Linked DNA regions of Homo sapiens. The protein of the gene in region 2 purifies or fractionates together with the protein of the main gene of each other region. This does not show direct contact. Each region holds a gene or a part of one and is shown on either strand. Other genes may lie near its edges.

Region 1 (7,394 bases), on a different chromosome or scaffold from region 2:
TACCTGGCACCATCTCGGGCTGCCCTCATCCCCTGGGTGCCCCCACCTTCATCCCGGTTCCAGACTGCCAAGACCCGGAAGATGAAGGCACTGAAGGTGGCAGCGAAGAAGCCCCGCCAGTAGTTCCGCACTGCAAAGAAGGTGGAGGTGACCTCGATGCTGAAGAGGACGCCTGTGAGGGGGAGGGAGACCAGCACTTGAGGCCTGGGCCTGGCCTAAGGCCTCAGACCCAGATAAGAGGGGCCAAGGAGGAGAGGCCAAGGGCAGGGTTGTGGGGCTGGACTGACCTAGGAGCCCTGCCTACCTCCAATAGGTGCCGCGAAGCAGCAGCCCACCCCCACGGCACAGGCGGCAGCCAGCATCTCTGTGTTCCGGGATTCATTCTGGCGAGAGTGGTGGCAAGAGGGGGTCAGCTGTGGGCTCAGCAGCCTCTGCCCCCTACTTGCCCCAGGGTTCCCCTTACCTCATAGATACCCCCAAAGAGGGAGAGGAACTTGCTGAGAAGGGCAGCACACATGCTTGCGATATGCACAAAAGGGCCCTGCGGGGTGGGGCAGGCGGTGAGTCGGGAGGGGGCCCGCCCTGACCTTGGCCTGGCCTCCTCTTCCACCAGGAGGGACTCCTTCATTCCCCAGCCTGCAGTTACCTCTTTGCCAAGCGGCATCCCGCTGCCTAGGGCGCAGGTCAGCCCAATGACCTTAGCTATAAAGGTCTTGAGTGTGAGGTATTCTTTCAGCACCACTCCCCGCAAGATGGTCTTCATCTCAGGGATGCCAGAGCCTGGAGAGGGAACAGTCTCAGGAGAGGCATTCGATGCACCCATTTCAGGGGTCCCGCCTCTGCCCTCCCCTTCTCTTCTAACATACCGACAGCCTGAGGGGCCAGGATCTGTGTGAATCCGGCTGAGAAAGTGATGAGGACAACAGGGTAGGTGACCCAGGCCAGGTACTGGAGCAAGATGCTGGTGTTCAAGCCCCGGGACATCCACTGCTGGGCTGTGGGAAGAGGACCTGCTGGACCCCCAGTGCACACACCCACTGCCTGCCTGGCCAGTGGACCACGCTGATACGACAGGCTGTCCCAGGGAGTACCACACAGAGTCAGGGCATGGGTGAAGGAAAGGGTCCCTGAGGGTATTCACTGGGACAAAGCGCAATCTAGGCAAGAGGATCACTTGGAGAGGGGATGCAAGAAGCTGTGCCCTGTGGGAGTGGCCGAGATGATGCCTGAATCTGGGCAGTCAGACTGGCTGGGGAAAGTGGTCAGTGGCCAAGAAGCCAAGACGCCTTCCTCCATGTCTAGACGAGTGTGGCATGGACGCAGGAGGTTTATTCCCAGTCCTCCCCCTGCCAGCTGTCACCCTCACCTTGCAGACAGGCAGCAATGGCATAGTCCATGACCCAGCTGACCAATGCCATGAGAAGCCCCAGCAGGACCAGGAAGATCCAATCTTCACCAACCCTGGATACTAGGAACTTGTGGCAGCGGACAGAACAGACTGGGTGCAGGGAAGGGAAGAAGGGGGAGGATGGCACCAAAGTGCTCCTACCCCTTTTACTGCCCCCTCAACTGTCCCCTCTCCCCCATCAGCAGCTCTAATGGCCTCTGCTTCCCTCAGCACAGCACAGCCAGGTCCCCTGCCCCCACCCCAGTTCTCACCGCGGCATCGGGCGCAACGGCTCCGTCCATATTCCAAGAGCTCTGGGGCAGCCCGAGAGGAAGGGGGACCTTTCCAGGGTTCAGGCCCTCCCAGGCGAATCCGAGCAGCTTCCTCTTTGGCAAAGGCCCCAAGGTCCTGAGTGTACCGGCCATACATCTGGAGCAACAGAGGGGATGGGGGCATTCGAGGTCATGGGCTGAGTGGGAACGCAGGGAGAGTTCTTAGAGCCTCCACTCCTCTTCTCCCAGCCCCCACACTGGATATCCCTCTTGAACGCACAGTTCCCACTCTGGCCCGAGGTGTGGGAACAATGCACATTGCAGACTGTGGAGGCTGTCCTGGCCAGAGTGATGGGGACAGCCAAGGTACAGGGACACAGCTCTGGGGGTGGCAGAATAATCGGTCCTCTTCTCACAGGCCTGGGGCTGGGGCACTGAAGAGGAGTGAGAGGGAAGCCCCAGAAGAGGAAAAGGTGGAAAAACCTGTGGCACAGTCTAAAAGTGGGAGGCGGGAAGGCCAGGGAGTAAGGGATGATCAGGGGCACATGGGCAACAATAAGAGCCTCGTGGAGCTCGGGGCAGCTGAGTTGGGCCCAGGAGCAGGCGCAGCCCCAATCCTTATCACGTTCCTGCTGGGCCTCCGGCCTGTGACCAACTCAGCTGCACCTCTCCCACCCACCCTAATCCCCTTGTCCCCATTCTCCACTGCCACCCCCACCAGCCTGCCAGCCCAGCTGGGAGTGGAAAGCCTCTCACTTAGGGTGGGTGGAGAGGGCTTGGTGGCCTCAGCCCCATTCTGGAGCTGCACTGAGCCCAGCGGTGGGTTGGGGGACAGCGGAGGCTGAGGATGGCTGGGCTGTGACTGTGGATGCTGGGGTGATGGGACGGGAGAGTCGCCTGAACCATGGCTAGACCTGCCAAGCTGGGCGTGTGTTGGGGGGCGGGGAGGAGTAGATTCTGGCTGCCACCCGCAGAGCTTCGGGACACAAAGGGCTCCTGTTGGGGCTGGGATGGGGGGGAGGGAGGGAGGGAAAGATAGAGACAGAGAGAGGGTGAGAGATAGGAAAGGGAAAGCAAAGAGAAGAGAGGGAACTAGAGAGGAGAAAGTAGAAGAGAAAAGAGAGGGAAGGCGAAGGGATGGAGAAGAGAAAGAAGGGGATGAGAGAGGAAGAAGTACGGAGGAGGAAGAGAATGGAGAGTATTAAGAGGCAAGCACGGTGTAGGAGGAGGGAGGTGAGAGTGGGAGAGAAAGACAAAGGGATAGGATGGTGAAGGGGGGCGGGAGCAGGCTGGAGCACAGAGTGCCCGGGACAGAGCTCGACCCTGAGAGCTCATTCCAGAGACAGCTGGAAGGGACGGAGATGGAGAGGTGGCTGGTGTTAAGAGGCACCATTTCAGAGGCCAGGTGCCTGGCTTCCTTGACCATGCTCCTATCCTGGTCTGGGCAGATTGGCAAGTGTCTCCTACCCCATCCCAAGGGTTGGCCCCTCTACCCTTGCTCTACTCCCACCTCTCCCTGACATCCTGATTCATCCAGCTACTTTCTCCTAACTGGGCACCTCCCAGACTTATAGCCTCTCCTCTCCAAGACGTTCCCTCCCTGCCACCTTCCTGGGCAAATTCCAGCCCAAGCTGGTAAAAAGGAACCACGGGCCCCTTCCTTTCCCTAGGGCTTGGGTCTTCCACCCCAGTGACATGAGGAGGGTCACGTGGCTTCTCAAACACCAAGTAACAATGGGGGCGATAAGTCAGCTCAGAGCCCAGGACCCCTGCTTCTAATGAGGTCAGGGGACACACCCTGGGGTGGGTGGGGGCTGGATACCCCGCATCAGCATAGACAAAGGTCCCAATTCCCACACCCATTCCTGCTTCACCCACCCTCCCTAAAGCTCCTGTCCCCCAGAGTGGCAAGCCACCTTTTTCCAGAGTCAACTGAGGGGCTCCTGGAGCCAACGCTGGGTGTGGAGCCTCCAGAGGTAGGGTCTGGGGCTGACCATCTTTCTACACACTCGATTCTATGCTTAGCATGGTGCCATGCACATGGCAGGGACACAGAGAATGTCTTGGGTGGTGGAGATAGTGGCGTAGAGAAAGTTCAATGGTGTGAATGGTGCCGCGGAAGGGGCAGTGGGGTGCTGAGACTTGGGCCCAGGTGGTGAAGGGGAGGTGCAAAGAAAACGTGCATGTTGTGGGGTGAGGGGAAGGACACCTGAGACAAGTACCTGGTGTCCTTGTCCTCTGCAGGCCCTCAGCCTCAGCCAGAAACCAGCATGCAGTTTTCCATCCCTTCGGCCCTGCAGCCTCAGACTTCCAAGCCTCAGTTTCCCCAGCTCAAAATGCTAGGACAGGATTAGGGTAGGCCCCTGGTCCTCGCGCTTCCCAGGGTAACCTGGAGCAGGGGTCCCGGAGCGCACTCCTGGGGCTCAGCTCAGCTTCACTTACCAGGGTCTGCTCGTACTGCAGCGCCCGTGGCTCCATCCCTTCCTCCGCCGCCGCGGCCGCCATCTCCGCGCACTGCCCTCTCGCCTCCCTCGGCGGTTCCGGCTCTGTCCTGGACTCGGCTCCCGGCCCGCAAAGTCCGCGCCGGCAGCCGTCCCGTCCCCGCAGCCCGGGAGGCCGAGAGCAGAGTGCGGCGGGCCCCCGGCGGGCGCCGCTGGCGCAGCCTCCCGCTCGCGTCCCCTCCCCGGCGGGCGGGCCGAGGGCGGTGCCCTCTGCGCTGCTCCGCCCGCCGGCCCATCCGGAGGGGACGGCCCAGCCAGGCTGGGGTCCGCGCGGGGCCTCCCGAGAGGCGGCAAGGGGCGCTGGGAAGGCGCAAGCCCGCGCCGGCTCCCTGCGGATGCCCGGGTCGGAGAGGGGCGCCCGGGAGGGGCGGGTCTACTGGCACGTGGAGGGGCCGGCCCGGGTTCGCGGTTCCCCGTGCCCAGGCAGGAGGGGCTGCAGACGCCTGAGCTCCGTAGGGGTTGGGGCTGGGGGCTGCGGAGCTGTCTACATCGGACTCCTCCGGGTCAGCCCGTTAGGAGCCGCCTCCCCTCTGCCCCTCCGAAGAGACGAGCGGCCCAGACAGGCCTGGGAAGGCCCCTCTGCCCCGTCAGGGGTGAAAAGCAAAGCTGGAAGGATTCGGAGAGGGTTGGGGCCGTCTTCCTCATCCTTCCTTTTCTCGGGGCTCCCGTGGGTAGGTGCACTTGGAGCAACCGGGCCTGCGGGGTGTGCGGGGGTGGAGGTTGGGGAGGGCACCGGAAGGGGTAGGCCGGAGGGAAGGGAGCTCCAGGTGCCGGGAAGTCTACTCCTGGGACGCGGGCGTGGGTCGCTTCTCCCTGGCTGGGCCCAAGGAGGAACCCAAGTCGCTGCTTCCATCCCTCCGCTTTGGGGGAACTGCCTGCTGGTGTTCTGGGTTCTCTATCAGGGGCTGGGGAAGGATAGAACAGAGGGCGGAGCGCGCGCAGGGTGGATGGGCAGCGTAGAGATAGTGTGAGAGGAGCGAGGGCAGCGCCCAGGAAACGCACAAGTGTGCGGGAGAGCCAGCACCAGGAGTAAGGGGCATTTGGGAGGCAGAGGCGGGGCTCAGGGGGCGGGAGCAGTGCCCGGGAAGGGGGGGCCTTGTGATAGAAGCCAGCACTCAGGAGGAAGGGCCAGTGTGAGGGAAGAGCTGGTATCCAAGGGACAGGGCAGTGCCAGGCTGAAGGGGCACGGAGGGGATCCGTGTCCAGGAGAAGGCAGTGGAGGGGGAACGCGCAGCACTAAGCTGGAGGGGTAATGCCCGGGGGAGGGGGGTGGCGGGAGCCCGGCTGAAGGGGCGGTGTAGGGGAAGAGAGCAGGGCCTGGGGGGAAGAGGGAGGGCAGTGGTGGGAGGGTGCAGTACGAGAGGAGGGGACAATGCAGGCTTTCCTCTTCTCCATAGCGACGTCATGGCAAATTCCCAAACTGGACGGATCCGGCTCGGGTTACGTCCAGCAGGGCCGAGCCGGCCCAGGCCGGCCCCGGGGTCCTCGGTGCCGGCTGGAGGGGCTGGGCACCTCTGGGGCGGGGTTCTGCTCCACCTGCCCTCGGCGCGGACTGTGCCCTCGGCGGGCACGCGGACCGGCGGGGTAGGGCTAGGGCCCGGCTTCTCTGGGCCAAGGATCAAGGTCCCTGCCTGGGTTAGGCCCCCACGCATTCCAGTCTTCGGAACCCGGCCTCTGAAGAGGGCGCAGTAGGGCCCCAGCGGAGCGCGAGAACCCGCTCTACAGCCTATTGCTTCCCCGCCCTGGGCAGAGCCACCTGGACATGAGACCCGCCCTCAATGCCGAAGCCTCTCGGAAGCAATCTTTCGGGACGGAAGTTAAGTAGCCCCGAGCGGGAGGCTGTGGCGGAAGTGGTCGCGTTACCGCTTGTTTGTGCGCATGCGCCACTCTCGTCTGGCCGCCGCGCTTTCAGGAGGTGCTTTTGGTTCTCTCCGGTCTTGTCCACGCTAGGGGGTGCACGTACTCCCAACTGTGGTCGCGCTCTCACCCCTTCTGCTGCTCTCGTGGCCCCCTCGCGATGGCGGGCATCCTGTTTGAGGATATTTTCGATGTGAAGGATATTGACCCGGAGGGCAAGAAGTTTGACCGAGGTAAGTAAGGTATGTAGGGGCGGTTTGGAGGAAGAGGCTAACCTCGCGGACATGCCCCTGGGCCCCGTGTCCACCCAGCTCTTGTGGCCTGCCCCTACCAGCAGGTCCTGGTGTAGGGACCTCCCTCAGTAAACATTTTATGGATGAGAAAACGGAGACTCCCGAGCTCTCTCTGGCTTCACGCATGCCGTGCCCGGTGCCTGGGTGGCCTTTTGTCATGGTGCTGGCAAACTCCTAGGCATATTTATAATCGCTACCTGCTCTGTGCTAGACACTGTCTTGTGAGACCAGCCTGGCCAACATGGTGAAACCCCGTCTCTACCAAAAATACAAAAATTAGCCTGGCGTGGTGGCGGGCGCCTGTAATCCCAGCTACTTGGGAGGCTAAGGCAGGAGAATTGCCTGAACCTGGGAGGCGGAGGTTGCAGTGAGCCAAGATCGCGCCACTGCACGCCAGCCTGGGCGGCAGAGCGAGACTCCGTCTCAAAAAAATGACAGTCCTCATGAGGTGGGTGGTGCCTTTCCCATTTTTCTCTGAGAGGTTGAGTAAACCACCCAAGGCTTCACAGCGAGTAATCTGACTTCAGAGCCTATATTCTTGTATTGCCCTCAGAATCTTTAGCGCTTTGTGAAGTCTTCTTTGAGTTAGAGTTAGCTGCTTGGTATATACCTTTTTTTTTTTGAGACGCAGCCTTTCTCTGTTGCCCAGGCTGGAGTGTAGTGGCACGATTTTAGCTCACCACAACCTCCGTCTCCCGGGTTCAAGCGATTCTCTGCCTCAACCTCCCAAGTAGCTGGGATTACAGGCATGCGCCACCACGCCTGGCTAATTTTGTATTTTTAGTAGAGACAGGGTTTCACCGTGTTGGCCAGGCTGGTCTCAAACTCCTGATCTCAAATGATCCACCTGCCTCGGCCTCCCAAAATGTCGGGATTACAGGCATGAGCCACTGCACCGGCCTACACCTCTTTATTTTGTCATCTATCAATAATTTTCTCTTTGATGTCTCTTTCTTTGCCTGGAGACTAAGATGTTTTTCAAGACGGATACCAGTTCTTATACATCTTGGTCACTCCCCTCAGCACAGTGCCTAGCATAGAAAGAGAAAACCTTTGGATGATTGAATAACTTGCCCAGAGTCAG
Region 2 (7,731 bases):
TGTCTCCTTATCTGCCACCGTGTCATCACCCCCACTTAGAACCCTTGCAAGAACTGTCCAAGAATTAGCAAGAAGCTCAGAGAACTCAGAGTCGTGGCCAGACCTCACCAAGATAATGCCACAAGATCTGTGCCCTTTGTCAGACCATGGATTTCTGTGTGGGCCCCCTCTCAAACGATTCATCTAATCAAATACTAGAAGACTTGTCCCAACAGGACCTCTACCCCAAAGGGACTATATTCCCTTCTTGGACTTTCCACACCTTCTCTCTCAAGGTCCACACCTCCATCCCCCAACAGACCCTCATCTTCAACCTCACAAAGTAACCAGAAGCCATCCACTTAAAGACTCCATGAGTTCCCTTCACTATCTAGCAACCCCCAAATCAACCTCACCTCTTCTGAAGGGACCTGTCTCATGCGTAAAGCCAGCTAAGCATCCTCTTTCTGGCTCCTTCTCAGCCCATCACCTTCTGATGCTCCACGGATAAAGACCAATACCTCAACTCCGACATCCTACAGGGCTGTGTGGCCTGGCCCCCACCCACCTGTCCAGCCCACCCTCCCCTCTGCCCAAGCCACACCAGCCTCTTCCACACCATGGTGGGTATTTTACCCCTTCTTCTTTTTTTTTTGAAGCGAAGTTTCACTCTTGTCACCCAGGCTGGAAGGCAGTGGTGCGATTTCAGCTCACTGCAACCTCTGCCTCCTGGGTTCAAGTGATTCTTCTCCCTCTGCCTCCCAAGTAGCCGGGATTACAGGTGCCTGCCACCATGCCCAGCTATTTTTTGTATTTTTAGTAGACATGGGGCTTCACCATGTTGGACAGGCTGGTCTCAAACTCCTGACCTTGGGTGATCCACCCGCCTCAGCCTCCCAAAGTGGTGGGATTACAGGTGTGAGCCCCCACGCCCGGCCTGTATTCCTTCTTCACAGGGCCTTTGCACATGCCAGTTCCTGCCTTCAGGGCTCTTCTCTCCACCCAGCCCCCTCCCACCCTAGAAAGGAATCCTCTGGTTGGCTCCACTTCACCATCAGATCTCACCTTCAACCCCACCTCCTCAACAAAGCTGCAGGTCCCCTCATTCCAGGGGACGTTCCTTTGTTCCACAGGTGTGTGAACACCTGTCCCTCATAACATTTACCTCAATTTGTCACCAAACACTCAACTGTGGACCCTTCTCATTCATATCTGCTTTCCCACCACACTATAGCACAGAGCCTTGTCTCTGTTTCATTCATTCAGTCAACAAATGGCCGGGCACGGTGGCTCACACCTGTAATTCCAGCACTTTGGGAGGCTGAGGCAGGCAGATCACCTGAGGTCAGAAGTTTGAGACCAGCCTGGCCAACATGGTGAAACCCCGTCTCTACTAAAAGTACAAAAATTAGCCAGGTGTGGTGGCAGGTGCCTGTAATCCCAGCTACTCAGGAGGCTGAAGCAGAAGAATAGCTTGAACCTGGGAGGTGGAGGTTGCAGTGAGCCAAGATCGCTTCATTGCACCCCAGCCTGGGCGACAAGAGCGGCACTCTTGTCTCACACACACAAACACAAAACAGAAAATTATGGGACATCTACTCCCGCCAGGCTTTGGCTAAATGAGGGGATACTTCAGGGAAGAAGGCAGATAAGGTCCCTGCTCTCAAGGAGAGGGAAAGGAAAAAGTCTAAGAAGGAAAGAGAGTGATGTGACACAGAATACCTGGAAAGGGAGGACTGTCAAAGAAACGGCAGTGGGAAGACCTCTCAGCTGGTACTAAGGCACACAGGCACAGCACAGAGAAGGCGCACAAATATTGGCTGCTGGAATGAAGGGATGAACCTCCTGACAGTTAATTCTGTACTACTAGAACTCTCCATCTTCACGAAAACAATGCATTGACCCGAGGCGATGGCGCACACCTGTAATCCCAGCACTTTGGGAGGCCGAGGCGGGGGGATCAAGAGATCGAGACCATCCTGGCCAAAATGGTGAAACCCCGTCTCTACGAAAAATACAAAAATTAGCTGGGGGTGGTGGCGCGCGCCTGTAGTTGTCCCAGCTACTCGGGAGGCTGGGGCAGGAGAATCGCTTGAACCCGGGAGGCGGAGGTTGCAGTGAGCCGAGATCGCGCCACTGCACTCCAGCCTGGACGAAAGAGCAAGACTCCGTCTCAAAAACAAAAAACAAAACAAAACAAAACAAACAACAACAACAACAAAAACAATGCATGGCTGGAAGGACAGCAATATTTTATCCCCATTTTAAAAATGGAAACTGAGGCCCAGAAGGGGTCAGTAACTTGCCTGCAATTGCAAAGTAATTTAGAATTGTGGAATCTAACACTTCCAGTTACAACTCCCTTTTTCAAGCCCATTTTCTTTTGATCCCCTTCAATATCTCCTTTCACGGTGAAGAAAAGTTCTGAGACATTAAGCTGCTTGCCCACGGCCAGGGCTTGGCATGACCGAGGCCGGGCCTGCGGCCAGTGGGCGGCGCTCGCTCTCCCACGCCAAGGCCTGCCCGCGAGCCGTGGGCCCAGTACCTTGTTGGCCAACTTCTTGTTCAGCTCCTCGGCAATGGAGTCGTTGAGCTTCCTCTCAAACTGCCAAGGGGGGATCCGGACGGTGTCCACCATTTCCACCAGGACGAACATCCCGGCCTGCGCTGGGGGCTCTGGGAACAGGAGGGTCAGTCACGCACCAGGGCCGGGGGCAGGGAGAATCCCCGAGCCCCTTGGTCCCGTCCCAGTCGCTGAGGCCCCCAGGCTGGCGGTGAGGTTGCACGGGGCGGTCTCGGGGGCCCGGTCCGGGCCATGCTCCGCTACTACAACATGAGGAAACTGAGGCCAGAGGGAGGCACTCTCCGTCCACAGCTCCGGGTGCGCGCCCGCGCCGCGAGACCCCGCCACGCCACGCCACTCCACGCCACGCCACTCCACGCCCCGCACCCGCGCCACGTGCCGCCGCTCGTATCACGCACCACGCACCACGCACCGCGCACAGCCGCTCGCGCTTGCGCGACTGCGGGCGAGATTCCGAATCCATCGCTTCCGGAAAACTCACCAATAAGAAACCTCTGTCCACCCCCACCCCGCCGAGGCGGGGCGGGGCTGCCTGTGTGCTCGCGCACAGCGTGGGGCAGAGAGAGGGCGAGGAGAGGGCGGGGCCTCCTCCTTTCACAGGAGCAGAGCGGTTCCCCCGCCCCCGACAGCGCTTTCTGTTGCTAGGCGACCTCCGTGCAATCCCGCCTGATTATCCCTCGCCTGGCCTGTGCTTTACCCGCATTGCTGTCCTCTGCTCGGCAGCCAGAGTGATCCTTTGGAAACGCAAACATATATTACCACATCTAAGTTAAAAAAAAAACCCACCGCAAACATAACATGCTTAGCACCCTTAAGTGTTCCGGAGACAAGGAGAATTAGCAGGAAAGGGGCACTTGGGACTGTTCTGAGATGATGGAAATGTTCTGTATTTTGTTTTCGGTGGTATAACATTGACGTATATAATTGTCCAAACTAATTGAACTCGGCAAGATTTTTGCATTTATTTGTAGACATTATGTTCCAATTGAAAAGTTATAATAAATTGGAACAAAAAACACAACCCATTGAACTTAGAATACTAGATCCAAGCCGGGCGTGGTGGTGTACACCCGTAGTCCCACCTACTCAGAAGCCTGAGACAGCAGCATCGCTTGAGTCCAGGAGTTTGAGGTTGCAGTTTGAGGTTGCATGCTGCACTCTAGCATGGGTGACAGTGACACCTCATGTCTAAACGAAAAAGAAGAAGAAGGAGAGGCGGAAGAAGAAGAAAGAAGAAGGAGAAGAAGAAGAAGAAAGAAGAAAGAAAAGGGAAAGAAGAAAGAAAAGAAGAAAGAAAGAAGAAAAGTCCAAAACCTTTATGGTAGTTCACACGGCCCTGCAAGATCTGACCATACCCCCCTCCTATAGCCCCATCATGCTCTGTCTCGCTGACATTCCAGTCTCATTCATCTTCACGTGATAGCATGGGCTAAGAGAATTTGGTAGCTTACCCAAGATCACGTGTTGACAAGTGGTAGAGGTGGGCCCAGTCTGAACCTCACTACCCTGCCTCTAAAAATTGGTGGGGTGTAGATGTATACTGTAGTGGGTTTTTTTGTTTGTTTGTTTGTTTGAGACGGAGGATCGCTCTGTCGCCCAGGCTGGAGTGCAGTGGCGCGATCTTGGCTCACTGCAAGCTCCGCCTCTCGGGTTCACGCCATTCTCCTGCCTTAGCCTCCCGAGTAGCTGAGACTACAGGCGCCCACCATCACGCCTGGCTAATTTTTCGTATTTTTTTTTAGTAGAGACGAGGTTTCACCGTGTTAGCCAGGATGGTCTCGATCTCCTGACCTCATGATCTGCCCACCTCAGCCTTCCAAAGTGCTGGGATTACAGGTGTGAGCCACCGCGCCCGGGCTTGTAGTGTGTTTTAACCAAAATAACAATTTAGGTACTTACAAAAGATACTTGGGGTAAATGACAGAGGCACTTGGAAATGTATGGTGCCTTAATTTGCTGATTTCACAAGCATAGTGATCTCTCAGTGACACTGGCTGCAGTGATGCTAAATGTGGCCTTCCCTGCATCTATGATTTTATTTTTAGGTGTGCTTCTATAGGATTTGAGGTACTTGAGGACAGCAGCAAATGCTACTTCAGCTCTTTATTCCCACAATCCCCTAACACATTCCTAGGAAGCATTGAGTAAAGGTGTTTAGGGATTACCATTAATTCTTCCTCTCAAATGTTTCCTCTTCATTCCACTCCCACTGCTATTGCTTCGGTTCAGGCCTTTTCTTTTTTTTTTCTTTTGAGACGGAATCTTGCTCTGTCGCCCAGACTGGAGTGCAGTGGCATGATCTCAGCTCAATGCAACCTCCACCTCCTGGGTTCAAGCGATTCTCCTGCCTCAGCTTCCCAAATAGCTGGAATTACAGGTGCCCACCACCACACTTAGCTAACTTTTGTATTTTTAGATAAGATTTCACCATGTTGGCCAGGCTGGTTTCGAACTCCTGACCTCAGGTGATCCCCCCCATCTTGGCCTCTCAAAGTGCTGAGATTACAGGCATGAGCCACCGTGACTAGCCAATATCTGGTCATTTAAAAGTATGTGGCGGGGCCAGGCGTGGTGGTTCACACCTGTAATCCCATCACTTTGGGAGGCCGAGGTGGGTGGATCACAAGGTCAGGAGATTGAGACTATCCTGGCTAACACGGTGAAACTCTGTCTCTACTAAAAATACAAAAAAAAAAAAAAAAAAAAAAAAGTAGCCGGGCGTGGTGGCACGCGCCTGTGGTCCCAGCTACTTGGGAGGCTGAGGCAGAAGAATCACTTGAACCCGGGAGGCAGAGGTTGCAGTGAGCTGAGATCACACCACTGCACTCCAGCCTGGCGACAAAGTGAGACTCCGTCTCAAAAAAAAAAAGTGTGTGGTGGCCAGGCGTGTGGCTCATGCCTGTAATCCCAGCACTTTGGGAGGCCAAGGTGGGCGGATCACCTGAGGTCAGGAGTTCAAGACCAGCCTGACCAACATGGAGAAACCCCGTCTCTACTAAATACAAAATTAGCCGGGCGTGGTGGCGCATGCCTGTAATCCCAGCTACTCAGGAAGGCTGAGGCAGAAGAATCGCTTGAACCCAGGAGGTGGCGGTTCTGGTGAGCAGAGATCGCGCTATTGTACTCCAGCTTCGGCAACAAGAGCAAAACTCCATCTTGAAAAAAAAAGTGTGTAGCACCTCCCTCCTCCCACTCTCTCTCTTGCTCCTCTTTTCCCCATGTGATGTGCCTGCTCCTCCTTTGATTTCCGATATCATGGGAAGCTTCCCGAGGCATCCCTGGAAGCTGAGCCTATGCCAGTACCATGCTTGCTGTAAAGCCTGTGGAACCATGAGCCAACTAAACCTATTTTTTTTTTTTTGAGACGGATTCTTGCTCTGTCGCCCAGGCTGGAGTGCAGTGGCATGATCTCGGCTCACTGCAAGCTCCACCTCCCGGGTTCATGCCATTCTCCTGCCTCAGCCTCCCAAGTAGCTAGGACTACAGGCACCCGCTACCACGCCCAGCTAGTTTTTTGTATTTTTAGTAGAGATGAGGTTTCACCGTGTTAGTCAGGATGGCCTCGATCTCCTCACCTCATGATCCACCCGCCTTGGGCTCCCAAAGTGCTGGGATTACAGGCGTGAGCCACCGTGCCCAGCCAGCCTATTTTCTTTATAAATTAACCAGCTCTGTTGCCCAGGCTGGAGTGCAGTGGCGCTATCAGGGCTCACTGCAACCTCCACCTCCCCATTTCAAGCGATTCTTCTGCCTCAGCCTCCAGACTAGCTGGGATTACAGGCGTGCACCACCACACCTGGATAATTTTGGTACTTTCAGTAGAGACAAGGTTTTGCCATGTTGGCCAGGCTGGTCTGAAACTCTTGACCTCAAGTGATCCTCAGCTTCGGCCTCCCAAAGTGCTGGGATTACAGGCATGAGCCACCACTACCAGCCAGGTATTTCTTTTTTCTTTCTTTTTTTTTTTGTGCGTGTCACCCAGGTTGGAGTGCAGAGGTGCCATCTCAGCTCACCGCAACCTCCGCCTCCTGAGTTCAAGCGATTCTCCTGCCTCAGCCTCCTGAGTGGCTGAGAGTATAGGCACATGCCACCACGACTGGCTAATTTTTGTAGTTTTAGTAGACACGGGGTTTCACCATGTTGACCAGGCTTGTCTCAAACTCATGACCTCAGGTGATCTGCCTGCCTCGGCCTCCCAAAGTGCTGGGATTACAGGCGTGAGCCACCACGCCAGGCCCAGGTATTTCTTTATAGCAACGTGAGAACAGCCCAAAACAGAACCCACATGTGATGCTGTTCTCATTCATTCGTGCATTCATTCAACATACTGTTGTGTACAGTTGTTGGAGATGCAATGCAGAAGAAAAACTGGGCCTCAAACCGAGCTTCAACTCAGAGCACTTGGTGCTGGAGTTGGGGGGCAGCAGGGTGGGCACTGAGAGAAAGAGCGAGTTTGTACTCTCAGGTAATTAAAAGTATTTGGAGCCAGGCACAGTGGCTCATGCCTATAATCCCAACATTTTGGGAGGCCGAGGCAGGAGGATTGCTTAAGGTCAGTTTGAGACCAGCCTGGGTAACAAAGTGAGATACTGTCTCTACTAAAAAAATAAAATAATTAGCTGGGTGTGATGGCACTTGCCTGTAGTCCTAGCTACTTGGGAGGCTTAGTTGGGAGGATTGCTTGAGCCCAGGAATTTGAGGCTTCAGTGAGCTTTGATCATGCCACTGCCCTCCAGCCTGGGTGACAGAGCAAGACTCTGTCTCTGAAATAAATAATAATATTCGGGCTGATTTACATGGGAGATGACAACTGGTAAGCTAAGAGGTTAGAGACCTAAGCAGCATCCAGATCAGAGGGCCTTATGATTATATTAACAGCTAACATTCATGAGCACTTACTATATGTCAAGTACTACTTAGGTGCTTTATATGCATTAAGTTTGATCCTCAGAACAGCTGTATACAGTAGGAGCTATCATCGTTATCTCACTTGCCCAATTGTCTCATTTTGCCTCATCTAAGGTAAACAGAGGTTAAGTAGGTCATTCAAGGTCATACAGCCAGTAAGTGGCAAACCTGGGACCCAGGCCCCAGAGTCCCTAATCACGACCACCAGGCTGTGCCCCGCCATGACGTTAGAAGTCAGGAGTTCGAGACCAGCCTGGCCA

What was found. Proteins that work in one complex are often made in the same cells at the same time.
Region 1: the proteins of POLR3H (region 2) and POLR2H purify together in Homo sapiens (affinity purification with mass spectrometry; 5 studies listed by BioGRID and IntAct, with this or other methods). This does not show direct contact.

The regions. Positions count from the first base shown.
Region 1 is NC_000003.12:184,357,316-184,364,709, forward strand, and holds the start of POLR2H (DNA-directed RNA polymerases I, II, and III subunit RPABC3), read left to right. Parts: upstream 1-4,394; 5' UTR 4,395-4,831; intron 4,832-4,925; exon of another isoform or gene 4,926-5,189; intron 5,190-5,290; exon of another isoform or gene 5,291-5,409; intron 5,410-5,557; 5' UTR 5,558-6,177; coding exon 6,178-6,250; exon of another isoform or gene 6,251-6,259; intron 6,260-7,394. Other genes in the region: CLCN2 (chloride channel protein 2), read right to left, coding at 47-172, 305-383, 464-541, 647-780, 867-995, 1,367-1,498, 1,660-1,816, 4,102-4,164. UniProt on the Homo sapiens protein: DNA-dependent RNA polymerase catalyzes the transcription of DNA into RNA using the four ribonucleoside triphosphates as substrates.
Region 2 is NC_000022.11:41,541,467-41,549,197, forward strand, and holds the start of POLR3H (DNA-directed RNA polymerase III subunit RPC8), read right to left. Parts: upstream 3,005-7,731; 5' UTR 2,636-3,004; coding exon 2,525-2,635; intron 1-2,524.